Linked DNA regions of Homo sapiens. The protein of the gene in region 1 purifies or fractionates together with the protein of each later gene. This does not show direct contact. Each region holds a gene or a part of one and is shown in the gene's direction. Other genes may lie near its edges.

What was found.
Region 2: the proteins of PLCB3 (region 1) and EFL1 fractionate together in Homo sapiens (co-fractionation; one large-scale study listed by BioGRID). This does not show direct contact.
Region 3: the proteins of PLCB3 (region 1) and NUDT5 fractionate together in Homo sapiens (co-fractionation; one large-scale study listed by BioGRID). This does not show direct contact.
Region 4: the proteins of PLCB3 (region 1) and CAMSAP2 fractionate together in Homo sapiens (co-fractionation; one large-scale study listed by BioGRID). This does not show direct contact.
Region 5: the proteins of PLCB3 (region 1) and ROCK1 fractionate together in Homo sapiens (co-fractionation; one large-scale study listed by BioGRID). This does not show direct contact.
Region 6: the proteins of PLCB3 (region 1) and NSUN2 fractionate together in Homo sapiens (co-fractionation; one large-scale study listed by BioGRID). This does not show direct contact.
Region 7: the proteins of PLCB3 (region 1) and SMYD3 fractionate together in Homo sapiens (co-fractionation; one large-scale study listed by BioGRID). This does not show direct contact.

What each region holds. Positions count from the first base shown.
Region 1 is NC_000011.10:64,261,530-64,264,976, forward strand, and holds part of PLCB3 (1-phosphatidylinositol 4,5-bisphosphate phosphodiesterase beta-3), read left to right. Parts: intron 1-51; coding exon 52-136; intron 137-422; coding exon 423-547; intron 548-656; coding exon of another isoform or gene 657-730; exon of another isoform or gene 731-837; intron 838-877; coding exon 878-1,032; intron 1,033-1,117; coding exon 1,118-1,279; intron 1,280-1,968; coding exon 1,969-2,068; intron 2,069-2,161; coding exon 2,162-2,266; intron 2,267-2,491; coding exon 2,492-2,583; intron 2,584-3,421; coding exon 3,422-3,447. UniProt on the Homo sapiens protein: Catalyzes the production of the second messenger molecules diacylglycerol (DAG) and inositol 1,4,5-trisphosphate (IP3).
Region 2 is NC_000015.10:82,129,733-82,133,734, reverse strand, and holds the end of EFL1 (elongation factor-like GTPase 1), read left to right. Parts: intron 1-3,173; coding exon 3,174-3,362; 3' UTR 3,363-3,502; downstream 3,503-4,002. UniProt on the Homo sapiens protein: GTPase involved in the biogenesis of the 60S ribosomal subunit and translational activation of ribosomes.
Region 3 is NC_000010.11:12,178,892-12,182,391, reverse strand, and holds part of NUDT5 (ADP-sugar pyrophosphatase), read left to right. Parts: intron 1-1,902; exon of another isoform or gene 1,903-1,997; intron 1,998-3,259; coding exon 3,260-3,309; intron 3,310-3,500. UniProt on the Homo sapiens protein: Enzyme that can either act as an ADP-sugar pyrophosphatase in absence of diphosphate or catalyze the synthesis of ATP in presence of diphosphate.
Region 4 is NC_000001.11:200,829,393-200,832,892, forward strand, and holds part of CAMSAP2 (calmodulin-regulated spectrin-associated protein 2), read left to right. Parts: intron 1-2,807; coding exon 2,808-2,949; intron 2,950-3,313; coding exon 3,314-3,453; intron 3,454-3,500. UniProt on the Homo sapiens protein: Key microtubule-organizing protein that specifically binds the minus-end of non-centrosomal microtubules and regulates their dynamics and organization.
Region 5 is NC_000018.10:21,007,314-21,010,813, reverse strand, and holds part of ROCK1 (rho-associated protein kinase 1), read left to right. Parts: intron 1-2,619; coding exon 2,620-2,755; intron 2,756-3,500. UniProt on the Homo sapiens protein: Protein kinase which is a key regulator of the actin cytoskeleton and cell polarity.
Region 6 is NC_000005.10:6,619,545-6,623,044, reverse strand, and holds part of NSUN2 (RNA cytosine C(5)-methyltransferase NSUN2), read left to right. Parts: intron 1-944; coding exon 945-1,029; intron 1,030-2,746; coding exon 2,747-2,939; intron 2,940-3,500. UniProt on the Homo sapiens protein: RNA cytosine C(5)-methyltransferase that methylates cytosine to 5-methylcytosine (m5C) in various RNAs, such as tRNAs, mRNAs and some long non-coding RNAs (lncRNAs).
Region 7 is NC_000001.11:245,856,780-245,860,279, reverse strand, and holds part of SMYD3 (histone-lysine N-methyltransferase SMYD3), read left to right. Parts: intron 1-1,609; coding exon 1,610-1,784; intron 1,785-3,500. UniProt on the Homo sapiens protein: Histone methyltransferase. Specifically methylates 'Lys-4' of histone H3, inducing di- and tri-methylation, but not monomethylation. Also methylates 'Lys-5' of histone H4.

The sequences.
Region 1 (3,447 bases):
GCCCAGCTCAGCCCTGCCAGGTCTGACGCCCTTTCTTGGCTCACCCCTAAGAGAGGAACAAATGCTTCGAGATGTCGTCCTTTGTGGAGACCAAGGCCATGGAGCAACTGACCAAGAGCCCCATGGAGTTTGTGGAGTATCCTTTGAAGGTGCTGTGGGCGGGCAGGCCAGGGTGGGGCGCTCGGAGGCCGGCTCCGGTGTTCTGTCCCCACATATGCCACCTGCACAGGGTGCTGGCCCTCCGGCGGCCCTCCTGCACCCTGGCCTGGGGCTTGGGCAGATCCAGGCAGTCTCAGGGGGCATGGCTAGGCTAAGAAACAGAGGCCGGGTGTGGGGGTCACAGGAGCACCTGGCTGAGGCCGGAGGTGGAGGCTGATGGGGTGGGCCCTGGCACCTGTGTGGCCCCTGACCACCAATCTCAGATACAACAAGCAGCAGCTCAGCCGCATCTACCCCAAGGGCACCCGCGTGGACTCCTCCAACTACATGCCCCAGCTCTTCTGGAACGTAGGGTGCCAGCTTGTTGCGCTCAACTTCCAGACCCTCGGTGAGCCCTGGCCCCCTCCATCTTGACCCCGACCCTCAGTCTTACTGACTTCTGACCCACGATCCTGCTGGTCTTGCCTGAATGGACCTCTGACCCTGTCTCATCCCAGATCCCAGGGGAACCCAGCTCCCGACTCACCCCGCCTCCTGCCCTTGGCTGATACCAGACCCCTCCCCTGTCTGATCTGTCCTGGATCCGGACCCTGATGCCATTTGAGCCCGCCCCTGACCCTGGACCTTGGATGCCATCTGACCTGATGATCTCCCATTCCCCACATGGCACCGTCCTGCCTGATCCCTGCCCCTGCTCGACGTGCCCGTGGCACCCCAGATGTGGCGATGCAGCTCAACGCGGGCGTTTTTGAGTACAACGGGCGCAGCGGGTACCTGCTCAAGCCGGAGTTCATGCGGCGGCCGGACAAGTCCTTCGACCCCTTCACTGAGGTCATCGTGGATGGCATCGTGGCCAATGCCTTGCGGGTCAAGGTGGGGCTTGCGGGCGGCTCAGGCCAGGGGTGTCCTGGGGGCAGGACTCTCAGCATCCGCCTCACCCTCCTTGGCCCACCCCCAGGTGATCTCAGGGCAGTTCCTGTCCGACAGGAAGGTGGGCATCTACGTGGAGGTGGACATGTTTGGCCTCCCTGTTGATACGCGGCGCAAGTACCGCACCCGGACCTCTCAGGGGAACTCGTTCAACCCCGTGTGGGACGAAGAGCCCTTCGACTTCCCCAAGGTGAGCCTGGCCCCTGCACCCGCCCAGGCACAGGCAGATCCAGCCCAGACCGCCCCGACTCTCAGGTGGGAGAACAGGAACCAGGCACACCGTTGGCGACTGGGGATCAGAAAGTGGGGGGTGCCATGGGTCCCCCAGGACCTGCCTGTCCGAGCGTCAGTCTCCCTGCCCTCCTTAGGGTAAGAGACCAGGGTGAGAAGGTGAGATGGGGGTTGGGGGGTGTCAGCTAGACGTCTTGTGTCCCCTGCGAGGAGTGGACACAGCCTACCCTGTCTCCGAGGCAGGAGCTGAGGTCACAACCCCAAGCTCATATCCGCTCTTCAGCACCCCGCACGGCCCTGCATGGACGCGGCCTCTGCTCCCAGCCTGGGCATGTGTGTTCTTGGTTTCCTGCTCATGACTCACTCCCGTTTCTAAACTGGCAATGACCAGAACTGTCTGTGGGGGCCCTGGAGGGGCCTGGCTGCCTGTCATCTTGCCTCAGGGTCCTGATGGCTGCAGTCATCCATTAGGCCAGGACATGGAAGTGGGGTCAGCCATCAGCTTAGTGGCAATGGTGACTGATGGTCAGTAGGTCAGCTCGTCTGAAGGTCTGCTTTGTTAAGCTTTGATGGCTGTGGTTAGCTGTGGCCTGGTAGCCACAGTGGCCCAGGGTCAGCCCTGTGGCTCAGCTCCAGTCTGGCCCACAGGTGGTGCTGCCCACGCTGGCTTCACTTCGCATTGCAGCCTTTGAGGAGGGGGGTAAATTCGTAGGGCACCGGATCCTGCCTGTCTCTGCCATCCGCTCCGGTGAGGCCTTGGTGGGCTCTGGGCAGCACAGCGGGCAGTGGGTAGGGCCCCCACCTGGCCCAGCAACCCAACGTTGCCTTCCTGACCACCCAGGATACCACTACGTCTGCCTGCGGAACGAGGCCAACCAACCGCTGTGCCTGCCGGCCCTGCTCATCTACACCGAAGCCTCGGACTACATTCCTGACGACCACCAGGGTGAGCTGGGGGTGGGCGGGGCCTGCCTGGCCAGGGAGTGTGAGGGACAAGGGCCACCCCCAGGGCCTGGGAGTGGCCGAGCTGGATGGCCCCGACTGAGTAGGGAACTGAGTAGGGAACAGATCTGAGGACAAGCTCTGGAATTCCTCATTGAGACCAGAGGTGGCGGGTGGGGGTGGCCTGGGGGCTCTGTCTCTGAGACCTTGGCCTTCTGCCTCCCCCCAGACTATGCGGAGGCCCTGATCAACCCCATTAAGCACGTCAGCCTGATGGACCAGAGGGCCCGGCAGCTGGCCGCCCTCATTGGGGAGAGTGAGGTGAGCCGGGGCAGGGCAGGGCTCAGGCTCACTGTGACCCAGGGGGCCGCTGGACATGACTGCTGTGGCCACATGAGGAGGGGGCTTCTGGTCTCTCTAGCGCAGTAGGCTTGGCAGCCCTGGGATTTTGAGGAGATGAAAACCACCCATTTGCATTCAGGAGGCCTTCAGGTCACACCTGGGCTGGAATTCCTCCAGCTCCATGTAGGCTTGGAGTGGGGGTACAGGGGTCTCAGCCACTTCATCAGGGCAGTGCGAAGCCACAGAAGCTGTTCAGACGTGGTGTCCTGGGAGTCATGAGGAGGGCAGTGGCTTCCGTGGGGAGGGGTCAGGCACGGAGGTTCACCTGCGCTTCCAGATCCAGTCCCCCCAGGGCCTGCGGCAGGCGGGCGGGGAGAGATGACTGCAATTAGGGCTGCCTGGAGCTGTTAGCGGAGAGGCTGGTGCCCACTCTGCGGTTGAGTCCTCTGTTGATTTAATCAGGAGCTCAGCAGCAAGGAAAATGAGCGACTGTAGGCAAGGCTGGGGGACACAGGCAGGGGAGGAGAGGAGGCTTGGGGCTGGGCCAGGCCTTTCCAGAACAATCTGGGAGTTACTGAGCACATGCAGTGGGCTGGCATTATGTTATCTTCCCCACAGCCCATGTGGAAAAGGGGTTTAGAAAGGCTTGATTTATAGCTCTTCTCATGCAGACAGCCTCCTGTTACAGAGCAGTCCAGCAGTGGCTTGGACTAAGGGAGGCTGACAGGGGTGCTAGGGGACCCAGGAGGTGGTAGAGGACAGAAGGGTCTGGAGGGAACAGCATTTCTGAAAAGAGCATTCTCCTTTCTCCCTATAGGCTCAGGCTGGCCAAGAGACGTGCCA
Region 2 (4,002 bases), on another chromosome or scaffold:
AATGTTGAGAATTTTACCTCCAGACAAAAGAGAATTATAACTTGTGGCCGGGTGTCTTAAAAAGAATTTGTTAAAAAAATTACAATAGTTTTTTTCCATAGGAAGTTACCAAAAAATATGTACAAGGAGGTCCTATGTGCCATTCACCCCTCCTTCCCCAATGTTAACATCTCTTACAGTACATTGACATTGATACACCCATAGCACTTGTTCAGGTTTCACCAGTTATAATAAATGCACTTGACTTAGCTAGTACCATTGTGCAATTTATGTTTGGATAAACTCAGTCTTCATGGCAGTCTGCAAACATGGCAAAGGGCAGGCTTTGGAGCCAGACAAATCTAGGATATGCCAGGTGCTTTACCATATGACTTTCATATAATATCTTCTTCAGTCTTCACAACAACCCTGTATCAGTTGATAGATTATGAGTGTTTTCAGCCGCAAGAACCATAATGCCAGAATAGTAATTGTTTAAGCAAGTAGGGCTGGTACCATGGCTCAGGGACACCATCAAAGATGCAGGCTCCCTTTCTTCTGCTCTGTATATTCATGGGAGTTTGTGTGTCTTTAGTGCTATAAAAGTGTATTACATATGTAGCTTTATGTAATCAAGATACAGAATTGTTCCATCACCACAGGCTCCCTCATGCTCCCCCTACATAGCTACACCTACCCTCACCCTGGGTGGGTGGCTTTTGACCAGTCAGGCTGTTTTGAGTGGCAACCACTTTCCCTCCCTTCCTCCTGCCCAGGCCCTGAGCCCATACTGACTCAGCCCTACTGGTATCGTGTTGACATTGTTTGCTGGTGAATGATCTGGAATGAGCCTTTCTATCCTAGGCCCAGTGGCTGGTGAATCAGAATTGAGTCTCTGGGACTGTTGTGCCCACAAAATTATAGCACAAACCCTCTGACCCAGAAGAACCCCCTCAGATGACCAAGTCCACAGGACTGAGCTTCCTCCCCACTCCTCCTTCTTAACTGCCGTTTCTCGTCTAAATTCCATCCATTCGCCCTTGTCTGCCACTCTGCCTACCCCCCCCCCCCCCCAATTCCTGGACCTTGTCTCCTTTTCTGCCCCTTGTTGCCCAACCTCTAACTGGGCTCCCACTTCGAGACGCTCCTTAGACTTGCTGTCACCCACCAGAGTTATTACTCTAGTGCTGATAATGCCTCTGTGCCCCCTGGCTGCTCTCACTTCTACTGTCTGCCTTTTCCTTCCGGGGACTCTTTTTTGAAAGGATATTTCTAGTTCTTTTGTTGAGTGTCCATGAGAGGTAATATGTTTTAAAGTCTGTCCAACAGAGGCTTTTTTTGGTTCGCTGATAATGGTTTATTTAACTAGATAAAGACGTGTAGGCTCACACTGAGGCTCCTTAGCACTCTGAAGGACTTCATTGTGTCCCAGCAACTGCTGTTGCTGATGCGAAGCGTCTCGTTGGTCTGATTCATGTTCTTCTCTAGATCTGGCTTTTCTCTCTGATTTTCTCTGTACCTGCCTCAGCACCAGGACACAGGCAGCTGCTTTGTTTCCAACCTTTGTTCAAGAGCAAGAAGCACAGTTGTGGCTCACACCTCCCATTCTATAGTGTCTAGTGGGTCAGAATCGAGCCTCAGGAGATGCAGGTGCCCACAGATTTCCAGCATTTCAACACTGTCACAAGGGGTGGATTATTTTATTATCTTGGTCCAGACTCAGTGAGGTTTTTCCATCTGAAGACTCTCATCCTGTTCTCTGTTTTTTGGTTTTAGAACTCCTGTTAGATATACCCTATACATACTTGATGGCTCTTGACTTTCCTTTGAGACTTTTTTTTTAATCTCCATCTCTCTGTGCCGTATTCTGTATTCAGGGAAATTTCTTTAAGTCTCTCTTTTTAAAAATAATGTACTGAGGTGAAATTCATACAACATAAAATTGAACTTTTTTTTTTCTTTTGAGACAGAGTTTCACTCTTGTTGCCCAGGCTGGAGTGCAATGGTGTGATCTTGGCTCACCACAACCTCCACCTCCTGGGTTCAAGAGATTCTCCTGCCTCAGCCTCCCAAGTAGCTGGGATTACAGGCATGCGCCATCAAGCCTGGCTAATTTTTTGTATTTTTAGTAGAGACAGGGTTTCTCCATGTTGGTCAGGCTGGTCTCAAACTCCTGACCTCAGATGATCCACCTGCCTCAGCCTCCCCCAAACTTGAACATTTTAAATAAACATTTTGCTGCATTTTTCCCATTCACAATGTCATGCACCCACCACCTCCAGAAAAAAAATTAAAAATTAGCTGGGCATGGTGGCATGCACCTGTAATCCTAGCTGCTTGGGAGGTCAAGGGAGGAGGATCACTTGAGCCCAGGAGATTGAGGCTACAGTGAGTATGATTGCACCACTGCCCTCCAGCCTGGGCAACAGAGCAGAACTCTGTCTCTTAAATAAAAAAATATATGTAATAATAATAAGAGTGTAGTTACATGTGTTGATCTTTGTTGAGGTTGAGGACAAAGGCAAAATATTGATGGCAAAGACATTAACATTCAGATATATCCTAGCAAAAATGAAAGCTTTTAAAAATTATATTATGAAAAATTAATAGTTTTCTTTCTTCCTTAGTGTTATGAACTGGCGCTAGGAGCAAAGAATAATAATGTATGTTACAAGTTTTGTTGAATCTACTTCCATTTGTTCACACCTCCCATGATTCTTCATACTTTTTTTTTTCTTTTTAAGTTGGAGCCTCACTCTGTCGCCCAGGCTGGAGTGCAGTGGCATGATCTCAGCTCACTGCAACTTCTGCCTCCCGAGTTCAAGTGATTCTTCTGCCTCAGCCTCCCTAGTAGCAGGGACTACAGGCACATGCCGCCCCACCCAGCTAATTTTTGTTGTTGTTGTTGTTGTTGTATTTTAGTAGAGACGGGGTTTCACCATGTTGTCCAGGCCGGTCTCGAACTTCTGAGCTCAGGCAATCCACCTGCCTTGGCTCCCAAAGTGCTAGGACTATAGGCGTGAGCCACCACACCCTGCCGATTCTTCATACTTATTACCATTCCTAGCAAGCTTAGCTGTTCATTGCCTAACTTTTTTTCATTAGCTAAGACTATATAAATTGGGGAGCTCAGTGAATAAGGTTTGAAATTAAAAATGCCTAACCTTGCACATTCTGTCATCTTCTTTTACAAGATCATTCCCAGTGACCCCTTCTGGGTGCCAACTACTGAGGAGGAATACTTGCACTTTGGGGAGAAGGCTGACTCTGAGAACCAAGCCCGGAAGTACATGAACGCAGTACGAAAGCGGAAGGGGCTTTATGTGGAAGAAAAGATTGTGGAGCATGCAGAAAAGCAGAGGACACTCAGCAAAAATAAGTAGCTACCTACTACTGGTGGATTCTTTTCCTTATAGTGAATTTAAAAGTATCATCAAGGGTTTAATATTGGGAAAATTTCTTTTTGCCACATTATCTCTGTTTATTCACTTTCAATAAAGTTGATCCATATAAATATTTTAAAGAGGATGTTAGAGAACATGTTTTCCAAGTGTGTTTTTAATTGGTTCTGGTTCAAGGCAAGAAGTTATAAATATTGCAGTGATGATTTATGACTGCCCTGTGTATAACCCCCAGCAGTAAGACGTGTGGTCAGGGCTACCCTCTTGGTGGTGGGGAGGTGATGTGCAGACCCACAGTGGGCAGTCTCCTCTGCACTGAGCGGCCACTCCGGGGCTCACACTGTCTCTGCCTGTCATCACAGTGTCATAATTCTGAGTACATCCTCCACATAAACATCATGTGTGAATTTCGGAGTGGAAACATTTCATATTTAATCAGTGAATCAGAGCATTTAACATTGTTTGGAGAGACCGCATACTTGAGAGAGCAGCTGCTTTTTAGTTAAACCAAGTCACTGTTACAGCTCATCCATCTTATGGTGTTGTCTAGCAAAACAGTATCATGTTCAATAGTTAGCCTGTAAATCTTCTGCTTTTACACCCACTCATAAATTTTATCATT
Region 3 (3,500 bases), on another chromosome or scaffold:
TGTTATCTCTGACCTGATATAAAAGCCTGCGTGTACAGGTTGAGCAGCCCTAATCTGAAAATCTGAAATTCAAAATGCTGCAAAATCCAAAACCTTTTCATTGCCAACATGATGCCCCAGCTGGAGAATTCCACACCTGACTCTGTGTGACAGGCTGCAGTCAGAACACAGGCATACAACACAGACATTCAGTGTCCCCCCAGGGGAAAAGGAACCCTCCCCTTCAGCTCAGCTATATCCTTCTTTTTTTTTTTTTTTACCCTGAGACAGAGTCTTGTTCTGTTGCCCAGGCTAGAGTGCAATGGTGTGGTCTCAGCTCACTGCAACCTCTACCTCCCTGGTTCTAGCAATTCTATCTCAGCCACTCGAGTAGCTGGGACTAGAGGTGCATGCCACTGGGCCTGGCTGATTTTTGTATTTTTAGTAGAGGCAGTGTTGTTGGCCAGGATGGTCTGAAACTCCTGACCTCAGGTGATCCACCCACCTTGGCCTCCCAAAGTGCTAGGACTACAGTCGTGAGCCACCGCATCCGGCCATATCCTTTTTTTTTAAATTTATTTAATTTTTATTTTTTTAGTAGAGACAGAGTCTCACTATGTTGCCCAGGCTGGTCTCGAACCCCTGAACTCAAGCAGTCCTCCTACCTTGGCCTCCCAAAGTGCTGGGGTTTCAGGCGTGAGCCACCACACCCGGCCCGATATATCCTTTGCACGCACACGGCGACTTCCCTCTGCAGGTACTCCCACAGAGGGTCATGAAATGGCATGTGTGCAGACCGGATGCCCAGCAGCAGTTCCCCACAACACCCTACACAGGGCTGAGACCTATGTGCATGACTCATTGTGGGGTTCTTTGGCTTATTTCCTGCTCTGTGGGGTAAAGATACTGTTCAAAATGTCAAAAAGGCCTGCATGACACCCAGAGGGTAAGGCAAATATTTCAAAATCTGAAAAACCAAACTCTGAAACACTTCCGGCCCCTCGTTTCGGGTAAGGAATACTCAACCTGTACAGCTGTCACTTGGTGTCTGTCGGGGTTGGTTCCAGGACCCCCTGCAGATACCAAAATCCACAGATGCTGAAGTCCCTGATATGAAAATGCAGATACTCAGTATGTATTTGCCTCTAACCTATGCACATCCTCCCACGCACTTCATCTCTAGAGTAATCACAGCACCTAATACAATGCAAATGCTGTGTCAACAGTCGTACTCTATTGTTTAGGGAATAATGGCAAGAAAAAGTGTGGACCTGTTCAGTATAGATGCAATTTTTTTCCTAAATATTTTCAATGGGTGGTTGGTTGAATCCATGAATGCAGAACCCACGGATATGAAGGGCCGAGTCTAAGAGATAAAATAGCAGCTAGAGAATCCTATGTTCCACCGTCTCATTCATGAAAGGGGATGTGGGGTTAATTTTAGAAATATAAAAATATTCCAGTAGTGTTGTGTCTATTGACATTCAAGACAGTGCCGAAGTCACCCTCTGACCCTCCCGCCTCTTGTGTTGGTGAACTAGAGGGAGGAAGGCCAACAGGCTTTTCCATAACAAAGAAGACTAGGAATAGGATGATCTCACTGGAAGCAGAATCCTAAAGCTAGAAGAGGTTTTGGAGAAAACATACTCATTCCTGCTTTTTACAAAGGAGGGAAGAGCCTCAGGGAGGCTGGAGCTCTGGGCTTAGCTGGCGGGCAAGTAGAGACGAAGAGCTGACTTCCAGTCAGCTGTGCATCTCACAGGCCCTTTGAAGTTGTTGGAGCTCTCACTGGGCAATCTTATTCCGAGATTTCTTATCAATGCGTTTCTGTTTTATTGCTGGTGATTTATGGCTCGTTACTGCTTGTTTCCTTCACCTTAACCACGATAATGATGCTCCTCTTTTTGTTTCCCTTATTCCTAGTGTTTGGGATGGGACCTTCAGTGCTTTTCCCAGCACTGTCTTCTTCAGTCTTTAGGACTAACCTTAGGAGGCAGCAGAGAGAGCTATGCCAAAAGGTGTTCATCTCTTGCAATCTGTATGATTTACTTACCAGCATTGCTTGTTGGTCAGCTCCTTGCTACTAACAGGAATGTTGGGCTGCTGTGAGTTGTCATAGAAGTCTGTTTGATTTTCCTGTGTTCATTTTGACATATTTGGCCTTCGGAATTTGGGTACAATGCTGAAAGACCTACAATTTCCAGACAGTCTTTTTGTTTTGTTTTTTAAAAAGCAAATTAAATATTTGAACAATTTTAATGAAAATATGACAAGGTCCAAATTTTAAGGACAGCCGGATAGGAAGCATGAGCAGGAGGGTTCCGAGGAGGATATCTTGCAGCTCTTACTATCGAGATGCAGGTGGTAACTCCTTTTTATCCCAAGCCCCAGAGCCACCCACATGTTTCACTTCCTTTAAAAGAGATCCTAAAATTGTTTGCTTCTCCACTCTGGTCTCTTACCACTGCTTTTTTCTGTTGTAGGGAGAAGAGAGTGAAGGGAGAATGTTCCTTTTATGCCTCGCCCCTTTAAACTGCATAATTGTGTCAGTAACTGGGTTTCCTGTACAACTGTGCCCCATGTTCCAAGGCCAGAAAGTAGAATAGCACAGATGTTACCCAAAAGCTGAGTTGGGTAACAGTCAGAAACCAATAGCTAACCAGGAATAAAGCCATACAAGAGAGCAGGACTGTGCTGTTACTCAGCCCACTTTTTCTAGATAAGATCTCACACATGCAAAGTAGGGGCACTTGCCTACATTTAATAATTCTTCCATTAATAAATGGGAAGGTTCTACCTTCTTAAATTGTGTGTTTTAGGTCACATATTTTAAAAATCAAAATGATATGAAAATCTCAATAGTTCACGTTGTCCATAGTAGCTTTTGTTCCTAGAGACGGGGTGAGTCTTTTCCTATGGCTTCATTTGCATTACCTGCTTATTAATCTGTCACTGGCTGTGCTCCTTGCCCAGAGACATAGGATCCAAACTAAAGTTTTCTGAGAAAGCGGCAGCTCACATGCTTAGCAGGCTTTCTGTTTCGGGGGCACCCAGAAGGTGAGGTGTAGGGTGGCAAGAGTTTTCGTTGTTAATTTTCAGAAGCTATAGGAAAGCAGAATTAGCTTCTTTAATGCAGACGTTTATTGCTGTGGTCTTCTTGACCAGTATCATGAGTACATTTGCATGCATTGCATTTAAGAAGTTCTGGTTGTACAGAGAAAACCTAAGAAAATTCTCTTCTGTAGCACTAATGACTTTTTTTTCTTCTCTGCCTGAACAGAACTTGGGAATCAGTGAAACGTACAACCAGGAAAGAGCAGACTGCGGATGGTAGGAGTGCAAACCTATTCCAACCCTTTAGAAAGGAAGTTAGCACTTGTGATCGTAAGAGGGTTTTCAATGGAACCAAGTTAACTTCTATTAGGATGTTGTGTCTTTAAATCTCCGCTTAGGTTTTGCCATACTATGTAACGAAATTAAGCTTTCTTTATAAGTAACTTCTGGCTTCTGTTATCTAAGCC
Region 4 (3,500 bases), on another chromosome or scaffold:
TTAAAAAATTATCTTTTTGACAGACCTAGTTCCTTTTCAGCTTGAATTATAGATGACACTTCACTTTTTGTGTGATTAAGAAAGCAGAAGGTTTTCTGTGACCTCACCAGTAGCGGACCAAAACCATATTAAATTCTGATTTGACTTAAAGATTGATCTTTCAGATTTAAATATGGGGATGGGTGTGTTAAACCACTTAAGAACTATTTTACATCCTCGATAATAAAACTCTAATTTAGAAATATACCATAATGGCCGGGTGCGGTGGCTCACGCGCATAATCCCACACTTTGAGAGGCCAAGGCAGGTGGATCCTTTGATCCCAGGAGTTTGAGACCAGCCTGGGCAACTTGGCAAAACCTCATCTCTACAAAAAATAGAAAAATGAGGCAGGCATAATGGTACACATTTGTGGTTTCACCTACTCAAAAGGCTGAGGTGGGAGAATCACCTGAGACCAGGAGGTCGAGGCTGCAGTGAGCCATGATTGTGCCACTGCACTCCAGCCTGGGTAACAGAGTGAGACGCTATCTCCAAAAAAAATAATAATAATAAAATAAAAATAAAACAAACAACAAAAAAAAGGAGAAGAAAATAAATATACCATAATGTTGAAATATAAAAATATAGGGGGTTCTTTCTAAATGCCAAACTTCTTAGTTTGCAGAAAGAAAGGGCATGTTTCCATGCAATAAGTTTATAAAGCAAATAGCATGTTCAAGTACAAAAGACTCTTTCATGAACTGCGGATGAACCTTCTGAGTGCTGGACATAATCTCAAGATTTAAAGTTGGTTTACTTAATATATCTTCTAGAATACAATCTTTAGGAAAATGTTTTGGCATCCCATTCATAATTCTCTGTCTAGTCTAAACCATAGATACTTATTGCTAATGTCATATAAAGCTGTGTGTGTGTGTGTGTGTGTGCACGTGCACATACATGTGCCTGTTTGCACATACCTTGTACAAAAGTGCTACTTTGCAGGAGGGAGTAGAACAAATCACATAATTCAATTCTTTGTTGCATGACCCTGGGTGCTTGGCTTAGTCCAATTCAGGTCATAGGCTGAAAACAAACTACTAGTCCCAGCCCAATTTTGAGGATGTCCAAGAGGCAGACTGTTTTTATCCCAGATAACCAAAGAAAAGCATGTAAGGATCTGGAACAGATACTAATTGTGAGAACGGTAGCTTAAGCCTAGAAGATACCGCTGTACTGGTTGATTTCTTTTTTCTTTCTTCCTTCCTCTTCCCTCCCCATGGTTGATTTTAAGCTGTTTCTTAGCTGCAAAGTGAGGAATTTTCTAAGAATTATGTTAAAATCAGAATCAATTAAAGAATCCATATAGTACCTGCAAGTAATTTTTTTCTGAATATAGTTACCCCCTGAATTAGGGATGTACTCTTAAATACGGAGTCTATTATGCACTAATTAACAAGAACCTTCAGAAATCTTTAAGAGGAAAACATGTTCCATGAATTTTGTCCTTGGGTAGCCAGTGAGAGAAATCCAGGAATAAGTATCTCCTTCTTCATTAATGCTGATGCTTTTCTGAGAGATAGCATTGAAAAGAAATCTAACTTCACTACCAAATGTTGTGTTCTCTTTCAGTAAATTTTTATTTTTCTATTTTTATTCTCACAAAAGTGTTTTATCTTATAATTATATTTTAATTCTAAACTATAGAGATGACCAATTTAGATGGAATTAGAAGAAAAAATAGTTTGATAACCTTAAAAAAACTACCAGTAATTTATGTTATATATTTTGCTAGCAAAATACTTTCGTGTGTACATTCACTAAATCTTCAGCATTATTTTACTTGGCTTTAGAAGAGTTAACAGCTAATAATAGCTAACCTTTATTGATTGCTTGCTGTGTGCCCAGCAGGATGCATAGCACTTTGTGTCCATCATCTTACTTAATCTTCCAGTGGTTCTATGAAGTGGGTACTATTATTACGCCAGTTTACAGATGGGAAAATGAGAAATGAGAGTTTAAGTAACTTGTCCAAGATCACAAAACTAGTAAGTGGCAGAACCAGGATCTGAACCAGGATCTGAATTTGTTCTCTTAACTATTACAGCATGTCTCATTTTTTAGAGATCTATTTTTAAAAATTCTATCTAGCCACACCAAACAATCTTTAGGAAACAAAGGTTTCTTCTCTTTTTCTGAGGGGGAGCAAGAACCCGTATACTTGCTCAATTATTAATGAAATCTAAGTTGGAAGGGTTTTTTTTTTTTTCACTTTCAAAGTTGTTAACTATTTGTGTTTCCTCAACATTCAGATAATAACCCAGAATGTCTTGGTGATACTATTCCAGTTCCTCAAATTTCTTTTAAGAATAGTATATTCTTTTACCTTCCCCCTCATTTTGATAACTCTTTCTGCTTGAATAGTATTCTTGCTCTTCCCGTATAAGAATTTTCAGTTTAAATTAAGTCTGAATTAAAGTAGATGAATTTTATTATCTTCAAAAGAGCAGAACTGATTATTTGGATACAAAGTGTTCAAAATCTGTTTTGTGATGCTTTTATACTTAAATATTTAAGCCAAATGTCAGTTAGTGTAAATTAGCAGTATGTTATATTAAGTATTGAGCTTCAAAACTATAGCTATTGTTGCCGTGTATTTAACTTTGGTAATACCTAGCGTTATTTAGAAAAAAAGAAATATTGGTGAGTGGTCTCATTTCTCATGATTTATTTTATTACTGGTACATTAGAATTTACAGTACTGATTTTTTTCCTATGCGTTATTTGGTACTTATTTATTTTCATGTATTTTTTTTATATCGTAGGCTCGTTATCGGAAAGAGCAAACATTGCTTAAGCAACTGCCTTGCATTCCATTGGTAGAAAATTTGTTGAAGGATGGGACAGATGGCTGTGCATTAGCTGCCCTTATTCATTTTTACTGTCCTGATGTTGTCAGATTAGAGGGTAAGTGTTCCATTGTAATACTTCTGAACTGTAGACAGATAGTAACCAATATTTAAGACAGTATTATTTTGCACTCCAGCCTAGGTGACTGAGTGGGACCCTGTCTCAAAAAAAAGACAATATTATTTAATAAGTACTGAAGACTTTTTTTTAAAAATAAAGAACATTTATATATAATTCTGAGGGAGGTAGTTCAAAAAAAAATAGTGCTCGGTTTCTAAGTCTTAATGTATAATGACTACTATATTTATAAATGTATGTTTGTTAACCAGAATTGTGTATTTGTACTAATTACAAGATGGATATGAAATATTTATTATCAAATTAATCCAAAGTCACCACCTTGCTCTTTTCTTATTTGAAGATATTTGTTTGAAAGAAACTATGTCTTTGGCTGATAGCCTGTATAATCTGCAGCTGATTCAAGAATTTTGCCAAGAATACTTGAACCAGTGTTGCCATTTCACTCTGGAAGATATGCTCTATGCTGCTTCATCCATAAAGGTAAATTAAATTATTCTTTTTTTCCCTTTGCTTTGTTAAAATATGTT
Region 5 (3,500 bases), on another chromosome or scaffold:
AAATAGACCAATCCATAATTATTGTTGGAGACTTCAGCACCCGTAAGAATCACCAAACATAGGAGAACTCAACTACACTGTCAGCTGTCAGAATTTGTTCAACATTTACAGAACCCTCTGCTTAACAGCACAATATGCCTTCTTTTCAAGTGCTTAAGGAACACACACCAAGGTAGACCACATCCCAAGCTATAAAACAAACACATTTGAAAGCACTGAAATCATACAGTTTCCTGACCAAAATGTACAGATGAGAATAACAGAAAAATCTGCAAACACATGGAAAGCAAACAATAAACTTCTAAATAACCCAGAGGTCAAAGAAGAAGTCTCAGTGAAAAAAATACATTGGAATGTTAATTATGTCTCATAAAACTGTTATGGCTCTTTATCTTTACAAAATATTTGAACAATGAAGTGAAAATACATCATCAAAATTTGTGAGATGCTGTTAACATGGTGATGAAGGTTAATTTATAGCACTAAATGCTTACCTTAGAAAAGAGGAAAAGTCTAAAATCAATAATTTAAACTCCTACTTCTGGAAACTAGAATAAGAAGAGTGAAATAAACCCAAAACAAGCAAAAGGAAGGACAAGTAACGATAAGAGCAGAGAACAAGGCAGTTAAAAGCAGAAAAACAATAGAGAAAATCAGTGAAACAAAAAGCTGTGTGAAAAGATCAACAAAATTAACAAACCTCTAGCAAGACTGATAAAGGAAAAAGAGAGGACACAAATTACCAGTATGAGGAATGAAATAGGGCATATACTATAGACCATATAGGTATCAAAAGAATCATAAGGAAATCCTATGAACAGTTCTAAACACAATTAAGACATGTAGATGAAAGGGACTAACTTCTCAAAAATCAAACTATCACAACTCATACAGTGTGAAATAGGTAATTTCAGTAGCCCTATATAAGTGTTAAGGAAAGCGAATCCATACTTTTTAAACTTTTTAGATATATGGATGAAAATAAACCTATGAAAAGAGGTTCACATAATTAGTCATTTGGGAAGTGCAAATTAAAACTATCATGAAATATTACTCCATAACCATGAAAAAAAGTAAGTTTTAAAATTATGTCAATAGCAAACTGGCAAGGATATGGAGAAACTAGATCACTTGGACATTGCAGATGGGGATATAAAATGGTACAGACATTCTGGAAAACCAATTGGCTGTGTTCCTGAAAAACTAAACATGTGCCTACTATGTGACCTAGCAATTGTATTCTTGGGCATGTATTCCAGAAAAATGAAAATGTATATTCTCACAAAAACCTGTATACTAATGTTTATAACAGCTCTATTTGTAATAGCCAAAAACTGAAAACAATCAAAATGTCCTACAGTAGGTGAATGGTTGAACAAACTTCGGTACATTTGTACCATGGAATACTCAGCCACAAGAAGGAATAAACTGTAGATACATACAATACAGAGATGGATTTTAAGGTCTTTATGTTGAGTTAAAAAAAAAAAAAACCTGTCTTGGCCAGGCGCGGTGACTCACGCCTGTAATCCCAGCACTTTGGGAGGCTGAGGCGGGCGGATCACGAGGTCAGGAAATCGAGACCATCCTGGCCAACATGGTGAAACCCCATCTCTATTAAAAATACAAAAAAAAAAAAAAAAAAAAGCCTGTCTCAAAAAGTCATATATTGCATGGTTCCATTTATATAACATTCTCAAAAAGACAAAATTATAGAAATGGAGAACCATTAGTTGCCAGGAGTATGGGTGGTGGGAGGACGGGGATGGGTGTGGCTATAACTAGTGACTGGAAAGAAATTGTTGTGATGACCAGTTCTGTATCTTCGTTGTGGTGGTGCTTACATGAACCTACATATGTGATAAAATGAGAGAATCATACACTCCTTATACCAGTGAGAATTTTCTGATTTTGTTATTGTACTATTGTTATATATAATGTCTCTACTGGGGGAAGCTGAGTGGAAGGGCACTTGGGACCTCTCTGTACTATCTTTGCAACTTTCTTTGAATGTATAATTATCTAAAAATTAACTAAAAGTTAGAATGATAAACTCTTAGAATCAGAAAGACCTTGAATGATTTATGTCCAATTTCTGCTTAAAGATGAGAAAGCCCAGAAACACTGTAAAACAGGTTTCCTAATGTGGAGTCTTAAAAAGTGAAGCATCAAAAACAAGATTTACTGATAGTGGTAACTCAGAAAGGTACATTTTTAAGTTGTGAAAATTTGGGTATTTTAGGCTGGGCACAGTAGCTCATGCCTGTTATCCCAGTACTTTGGGAGGCTGAGGCAGGCGGATCACCTGAGGTCAAGAGTTCAAAACCAGCCTGGCCAACATGGCAAAAGCCGTCTCTACCAAAAATAGAAAAATTAGCTGGACGCAGTGGTGCGTCCCTGTAGTCCCAGCTACAGAAGACAGATTCCCACTGTCTTCTTAAAAGGCAAGCTACTTAGAAAGTTGTATTAGGAGATACTATTTGCGTTTGAAACAGAACATTCATCTTAAGTGTTTGTCTTTTTTTTTTTCTTGTTTTTTGTTTTTAAGAACAAAATACTCACTTGAATGAATGACCAGAGTATTAATCACAGTGGTAACTTTTATCATTATAATTCCAGGGAAATCAAAGAAGAAATCTAGAATCTACAGTGTCTCAGATTGAGAAGGAGAAAATGTTGCTACAGCATAGAATTAATGAGTACCAAAGAAAAGCTGAACAGGAAAATGAGAAGAGAAGAAATGTAGAAAATGAAGGTAAATTGTCACTACTTTTGAAAAATGATAGAATTTCTAACACTGTCATGAGGTTGTCTTTAATTTAGTGTCCATGATACATACATGAAGCTACAATCCTAAGACACTTTATAAGCTAAATAACCCAGGTCTCAGGTTAAATTTATAACATATTAAATAGTAATTAAATTAAATATTAAATTACATATTAAAGTAAATAGTAAGTAGCATTTAACTAGAGTAGTGATTGTCATCATGGTGTGCATACTGGAATCTCCTGGGAAGCTTTAAAGAGTACTGATGCCTAAATCCCAGCGATTCTAATTTAATTGGTCTAGATATGTGGCCTGAGTATCATTATTCTTTACAAGCCCCCTAGGTACTTCTAACAAGCAGCTGCGTCTAAGAACTTCTAAACCAGAATTTCTTGTGTTTTAATGCTTGTGTTACAAATATATTTAAAATACCTTTCTACTCCCATTGATGCAGTAATTTCACTTCCATAAGTTATTTCACGTACATACTCCTACTGCAAACTGATATATACACAAGGCTATTCATTGTAGCATTGTTTAAAATGACAAAAAAAATGCAGTCAATGCTGTATATGAAACATAATGTAATACATATATGAAACATAAAGGTAATGAATGCTGTAATAAATTTTAGTACATCTATATGGTAGAATACTATGTGGCTTATAAAAAATAATAAATCATCTCCTTAAATACGGTTATAAAACAGTCTCTAAGACAGATCTTTAAGT
Region 6 (3,500 bases), on another chromosome or scaffold:
CTTTTTTGTCCTACTTAATTTTTATGGTTTAGAAAATTTTCTCCCCTTTAGTTTTACTGATTTGTTTACCATATGGATTGTCTTCAGTGATGGTGATTGGCTAAATTAGGTTGAAAATGATAGTGAACATGTATTGAGAGCTCATTGTATGGCAAGCATTACTCTGTGCTCTTTTTTCTTTTCTTTTTTTTTTTTTTGAGATGGAGTTTCACTCTTGTTGTCCAGGCTGGAGTGCAGTGGCGCGATCTTGGCTCACTGCAACCTCCGCCTCCTGAGTTCAGGCAATTCTCCTGCCTCAGTCTCCCAAGTAGCCGGGATTACAGGTGCGCACCACCACACCCTGCTAATTTTGTATTTTTAGTAGAGACGGGGTTTCTCCATGTTGGTCAGGCTGGTCTCGAACTCCCGACCTCAGGCGATCCGCCTGCCTTGGCCTTCCAAAGTGCTGGGATTACAGGTGTGAGCCACTGTGCCTGGCCTTGCTCTGTGTTTTTTAGGTGAATTAGTTGGCTTTATCATTCACACAACCCTCTAAGGGCAGATACTGTCACCATCTCCATTTTTCCAGATGAGGAAAAGGAAGCAAGGAGAAGTACTTGAACTGAGGTTACGGAGCTGTTAACTGGCTGAGCTGAGATTTGAGTCTAGGTAGCTCTGTTCCTTAGCATTATGTTTTCATGATTCTTACTTGTTCATCTCTATATTTAGTCTCTCTGGCTTACAGTTTCATTCTCCTCCCATCCTCTTTGGAGACTGTACCTATATCATTCTGTGATTTTGGGGCAGTGTAGAATCCCTAAAAGTAAATTATGTCATGCTATAGACTCTGTAAAGAAGTATATTTAGATCTTGGACTAGAAATTGAAAAACTAGAATTGCTTTAAATTAAATGTAGAATATTTGGTTTTTTAAAAACATGAAACAGTTTCTTGCTTTGTTAATAGATCTTAGATATGTGTGCAGCACCTGGCTCAAAGACCACACAGTTAATTGAAATGCTACATGCCGACATGAATGTCCCCTTTCCAGGTATGCATTGGACTTGTGTTCAAAATGGTAGGAATGCCACTTTGGCAGATTGTAGACAAGGAAAAGACTCTAACTTTGCCTGCTAATTTGGCTCTAAAGTCTCCTATGACAAGCAGTTGGGTTTTCCGTCTACCGGAAGTAGAACTGGACATCTTGCCTACCACCGTCAGTAGTACTCAAACAAACACACTCATACCATGGGGGAGCTTTATTTTAGAATTATGTGTGTTTTCTATAAAAACGAATGGCATTTCTTTTTTTTTTTTTTGAGATGGAGTCTCACTCTGTTGCCCAGGCTGGAGTGCAGTGGCGTGATGTTGGCTCACTGCAAGTTCCACCTCCTGGGTTCACGCCATTCTCCTGCCTCAGCCTCTCGAGTAGCTGGGACTACAGGTGCCCGCCACCATGCCCGGGTAATTTTTTGTATTTTTAGTAGAGACGGGGTTTCACCATGTTAGCCAGGATGGTCTCGATCTCCTGACCTCGTGATCCGCCCGCCTTGGCCTCCCAAAGTGCTGGGATTACAGGTGTGAGCCACCACGCCCGGCTGCAGATGGTGTTTCTTTATCAAGCCTACTTACAGAAGATAGATTTCACTGTTTGAATTTTTAGTAACAATTTCCCCTTTCCCCCACCTTTGTTCATTATTATTACTATTATTATTATTATTATTACTTACTGCCTTACATGAAGGGTAGTAGTGTGTAGTTAAAAGCTACCATCAGACTCCCTGGGTTCAAATCCTAATCGGCAAGTTACTTACAGTGTTAGACATCCCATGTGAAATGGGACGAATCAGTATGTAGCTTGCGAGGTGCTCAGGAAATGTTAGCTGTTATAGTGACACCACGCCCCTTTCTCTTAAGTGGAAACAAATACCCATCGTGATGTTTTAGAGTCAGCTTTCATCTCGTCCTATCTTTGTTCAGGCAAACTTCTCTAGTTCTGTTTTAATAGGCATATTTGTTAGGTCTGTTTTTTGAAATCCTCTTTTTTACATTGTTTAAAGATAATGCCTTGGCTAAAAAGCCTGCTTCACTTTTCCCTGTTTTTAGTTGTTTTCTCCACATTGGCAGTAAAGAGCCTTGGCGTCCCAGTAGCAGCAGGTTCTCCTTTTTGTATTGTGGATGTTTTGCATTTCATACTGTTGTGAAGAGTGGCTTTGATCATACATGTTGTTGGTATATTTGCCTTTTTGCTGGGGGTGTGAGAAGAACCAGAGATGAGCAGAGGTACACCCAGTAGACTTCCCAGCCTGCAGAGCCTCCCGGGAAGAGCTTCCGTGTTCAGGTGCTTGGGGCCCCACCCTAGGAGCCTGACTCACAGTCAGAGCAGGGTCCCGGCTTGTGTTCAGGATTTTGAAACATTTGTAAGGTGATTTTGTTGTTTCTACACCTTTCTCCTCATCTTTTTTTTTTGTAGTTAATCGTTACTAATAACAGAAAAGACATTTTTGGCATGGTAATTGGCACAAAGTGAATAATTGTTGAATAGATGACTTTTGAGGCTTTCAAAATTCGAGTGTCCATAAAATCCATCCAGAGCCACCTGGTTCCTTTTTTTGAACCACTTAACGTAATTCTGGAAAACCTTGACTGTGGGTCTTAAGTTTGGTGGATTGCTGCTTCTCACTGGCTGACCTTTGGAGGTCGCATATTTCAGGATGTGATTCCACTTAGGCTCCATTTCACCTGACACTGCAATTCTGTGCCTTCAGAGGGATTTGTTATTGCGAATGATGTGGACAACAAGCGCTGCTACCTGCTCGTCCATCAAGCCAAGAGGCTGAGCAGCCCCTGCATCATGGTGGTCAACCATGATGCCTCCAGCATACCCAGGCTCCAGATAGATGTGGACGGCAGGAAAGAGATCCTCTTCTATGATCGAATTTTATGTGATGTCCCTTGCAGGTATTTATCTTATTGGCCAAAAAGCCCAAATCCACTAAAGAAATCAAGTCAAATAGAGACTAAAATGAAGTTGTGCATGAATATGACACAATTGTACATAAGTCTTGGGGTGCGGAGAAAGATAGCGTGAGCCTAAACCAAAAGATGGACACGTAGATACGTCTTAATGAGAAGCAGCACAGCAGATGCTGGATAAAGAACAGAAAGGGGTGGTTGCAATAGCCTGCAGAAAGATAAAGAGAAAACAAAACAAAACAGAGAAAATACGTAAGAGGAAAATAGAATCGTAGACTCTTATTGTGGTGTGTTTTAGGATGTTATTGCTTGGAACAATTTGTGCACCCCAACTATTTTGTATTAGTTCTTCCAGTGAGTACAGTATATAAAAAACTTTGTCATAAAATAATACGTAATCACATTGGATTTTATGTTATTTAGTTGAATGAAAGAAATTTCGGAGTTCAAGCCCTTAAGAAATTCATTTTGCTTGTGTTTTTATACCTTTCTTGAGATAATACATCAACATTTTAGATATTTAGAGTTTAGATATAAAATAATACT
Region 7 (3,500 bases), on another chromosome or scaffold:
TGGGCGTGCTCTGTTAGGACCTCAGTGAAGAGGGTTTTGAATTGGGGGCAGGGGATGGCACAGAGAGCATGGATTGTAAAGGGACCAGGTCATGTGGGAGTGGGAGGGGTGTGGGGGCACGAAGGGGGCACTGAGTTCAGTCAAACTCAGTCCACTGAACCACTTTCTTTAAGCCCAGTCAGGCTCAGAGGTCATGTCACAGAGGGAAGGTGGAAGGCACTAATGCTTGTGTAGCATGTGCTTTGTGCATGCCACGAAATGTTCCCCACTGTGTCTCTGACACCTGGAACTCTCCCTGGCTCATGAGAGGACACATCATGAACTGTGTCATTTTACATACAATATATTACTCATTCTTACGTTGACGTGAGTCATTTCTATTTCTGGCCTATCATTAAGCACTTTGACTTCCTCAGAACCTCAACTCTGATAAATGACAGGACTCGATTAGATCTGAATCTAGCTTTACTACAGTCAAAGGCTAGGCTGCCATTTCTGATCTTCAAACCTTTTCACCCTACTGGAATGACAACATATGAAGCAGATGAATTTGGAGCTCCACTGGGTGAAGGTGAGACAGGAGTGAGAGAAGGACCAGTCCCAGTCCTGCACCCTCCTTGGTCTCCAGCTCGCCTAACACACCGCACAGTGAAGAAACTGCGAGGTCCCAGGGTCCTGCACTCTGGCCTTCGCTGTGTTTCCCAGAGAATTCACTGGGGAGGGATTAAAATTACGCTCCATAAACCATGTCCTCAGTCCTCTGACTGCCTCTGTAAGACAGGGAATATCAGTTTTAAAAAGCGAAGTCACTCCAAGGCTACATGAGATGAAGTTACTGACTCATGGTTAATCAGAAAGGCAGTTACTGAGAAGTGGACATTGAGTCTTCTCCCCATCCTTTTTAAAGCATCGTTTCCCTTGCCAGCAATTGATGTGCATAAGCCATGTTCCTAATACTGTCTCTTATTTTGGGGGTTTAAAATAACATATTTTAATGTATTTGGTTAAGTACAGGCTGGGGTCACTGTTGCTTTATAATCGGAAAAAATGAGACCCAGTGGAAATCTATGTCTTCAAATTGCTCCACCTAGTGTGTGCCTGTGGGTTGTGTGAGTTTTTGGGTTCATGTATGCCCAAAACTCAGGTAACACAGAAGCAAACATGAGCTCTTCCTTTTGAAAAAGGAATCTCTCTAAAGCATCTTTAATTTCAAACAGTTTTTAAACAGAAGCTAACAGAGTAAATAATTTAAAATCGAATTAACTTAATCTTTAGTCCAATTTAATAAAGGACTGCATTTATTTATGACTAGATTTAAAGAGAACACATCTAGGAGTATGAAGCAAGAACAGGTCTTTGGAAGTTTTAAAACTCCAAAGCACAGGCCTGGTTACGAGATAGTTTGTTGATGTAAACAGAATTCACTTCACTGAGATGCCTCTTCTGTGCTTTTGCTTCTCAAGTGTGTTTTCAGGCAGCTCATCTGTGAAAAATAACGGGTGCTTCCCTCGCTCCTGTGCTTGGGAGCTCTTTAGCCTTTTAGAGAATCTAATTTTGTTTGTTTTTTTCTTGATGAAGACAATGAATCCTTAACTAAGGTTAATAACAGAGTGGGAGCAGGTTCTGGCCATGTGCCAGGCAATCATAAGCAGCAATTCTGAACGGCTTCCCGATATCAACATCTACCAGCTGAAGGTGCTCGACTGCGCCATGGATGCCTGCATCAACCTCGGCCTGTTGGAGGAAGCCTTGTTCTATGGTACTCGGACCATGGAGCCATACAGGCAAGTCCCAGGGAGAGGGCTGACATAAGGGCTAGGACGTCTTCACGTTGGGCAAAGGATCCATGTTGTGAAGTCATTCTGATTACTACTTTGCATGGAGCATTTCCAGCTGCTTCTCAACCATTGTTTAAAACCAAGTCTTATTTTATTCACTCCTCTTGTTCATTCACTTATGCATTCATTCATCATTTGTAAAGTTCCTTCCATGTGTCAGACACCGTGGGTGTACAGAAACTAATTAGATGCTGTCTCTATCTGGAGCAGATGATTACAATACGATGTGGCGCTTGCAGTGACAAAGACGGGCTCAGGGTGGTGGGGGAGCTGTAGAGGAACGCAGGCTCAGACCTAGCTTGAGAGGCTGTGTCATGAGCCTCTGCTGGTCCAGGTGAGGATGGCCATATGGGGCCCTTGGTCTGGCTGACAGTAAGAATGGTCCTTTATCTCTCTCAGGATTTATGCTTTCAGTTGAATCATTTGCCTTCATAATCACCTTGTGAGCCAGGGAGGACAGCAGGGAGACGGCCCTGCCTCAGCTTCTCCTTGAGTCAGGTGAAGGAACTATAGGTAATTGCTTCTTGACTGATCTCAGCTCCTGGAGACCAGTAGGTGTTTTGCCCTGAGATGTTTTTATAACTCAGAAAAGCATTGAAGGGGGTAGTGTTGAACTGCTGAGAGTTAGGCGCTGGTGGATGCTGCACCCTGATTTGCAGTCGGCTGAGAACATAATTCTAGAAGGTGAGACGGAGAGCAGCCCAAGGGGAAGGGCACGGAGACATGTGGACCATAATCTGAGGTGGGAATGGCTCAGTCTCTAGCACAGAACAAGGTTGCTGGCGGGAAGGTACCTCGAAAGCACCTGTGACCAGGAGCGATGGCAGAGGGAGGAGGTCCCTGGAGAACAGGGGCTCCAACCTGGGCAGATCTTTAATTTCCCAGCTTTGCAGACTGTGCAAATACCATGTCAGCCCAAAGGGGCAACGTAGGACAACAGGCAGGGAATGGCTGTAAGCGAAGAGGAGCAGGTGGAAACGTGAGAGTCCAGGGTACTTCCTGTTCCCGCTAGAGGGAGAGGAATTTCCCAGGGTCAACATAAGAACAGAAGTGAGTCCAGGGTCTAGGATATTTGTTTGGACAAAGGTAGTAAACCAGAAATGAGGTGTTTGGTCAGGAAGCCAGGCGTGAGCCAGGAGCTTGGTGCAGTCCACAAGGACCCCGAAGACGGCAGAGGCTCCACCAGCCAGGCGGATGGCAGAGGTCCCTGGCCAGCCAGTGCCACCAGCCTGACCCTGAGCATGTTTTCGGGACTTCTGTAGATGGTTTCCTCCACTGCCTGTGGGTGAACAGCTTTGGAATCCAGACTGTGAGTCAGCTTTAATCAAATGTATGAGGGATTGGCTTGAGGGCTGAGACTGTAGACTTTCCCATGAGCAGTGAAATGCCTGCTCAGAGTGATCGATCTTGTGGGTTCTCGGAAAATACGAATCGCATTCAAAGAGATAAGGCTTCCTCTCTGAGCCTTAGTGTTGCAAAAAGAGGCAGGTCAGATGGTTGGCGTTACCTCTCTGAACTCCAGGGCTTGCTCTGAGGAAGCCAAACAGCCTCTGGGTGAGTGGATAAACTCCATCCAAAAGATGCAGACTGAAAAATACCCTTCTTTCTCCAGGCCCCCAACAGCAGCTGCTGGTTCCTCACTCTTGGCTAGCGCTGCACTGA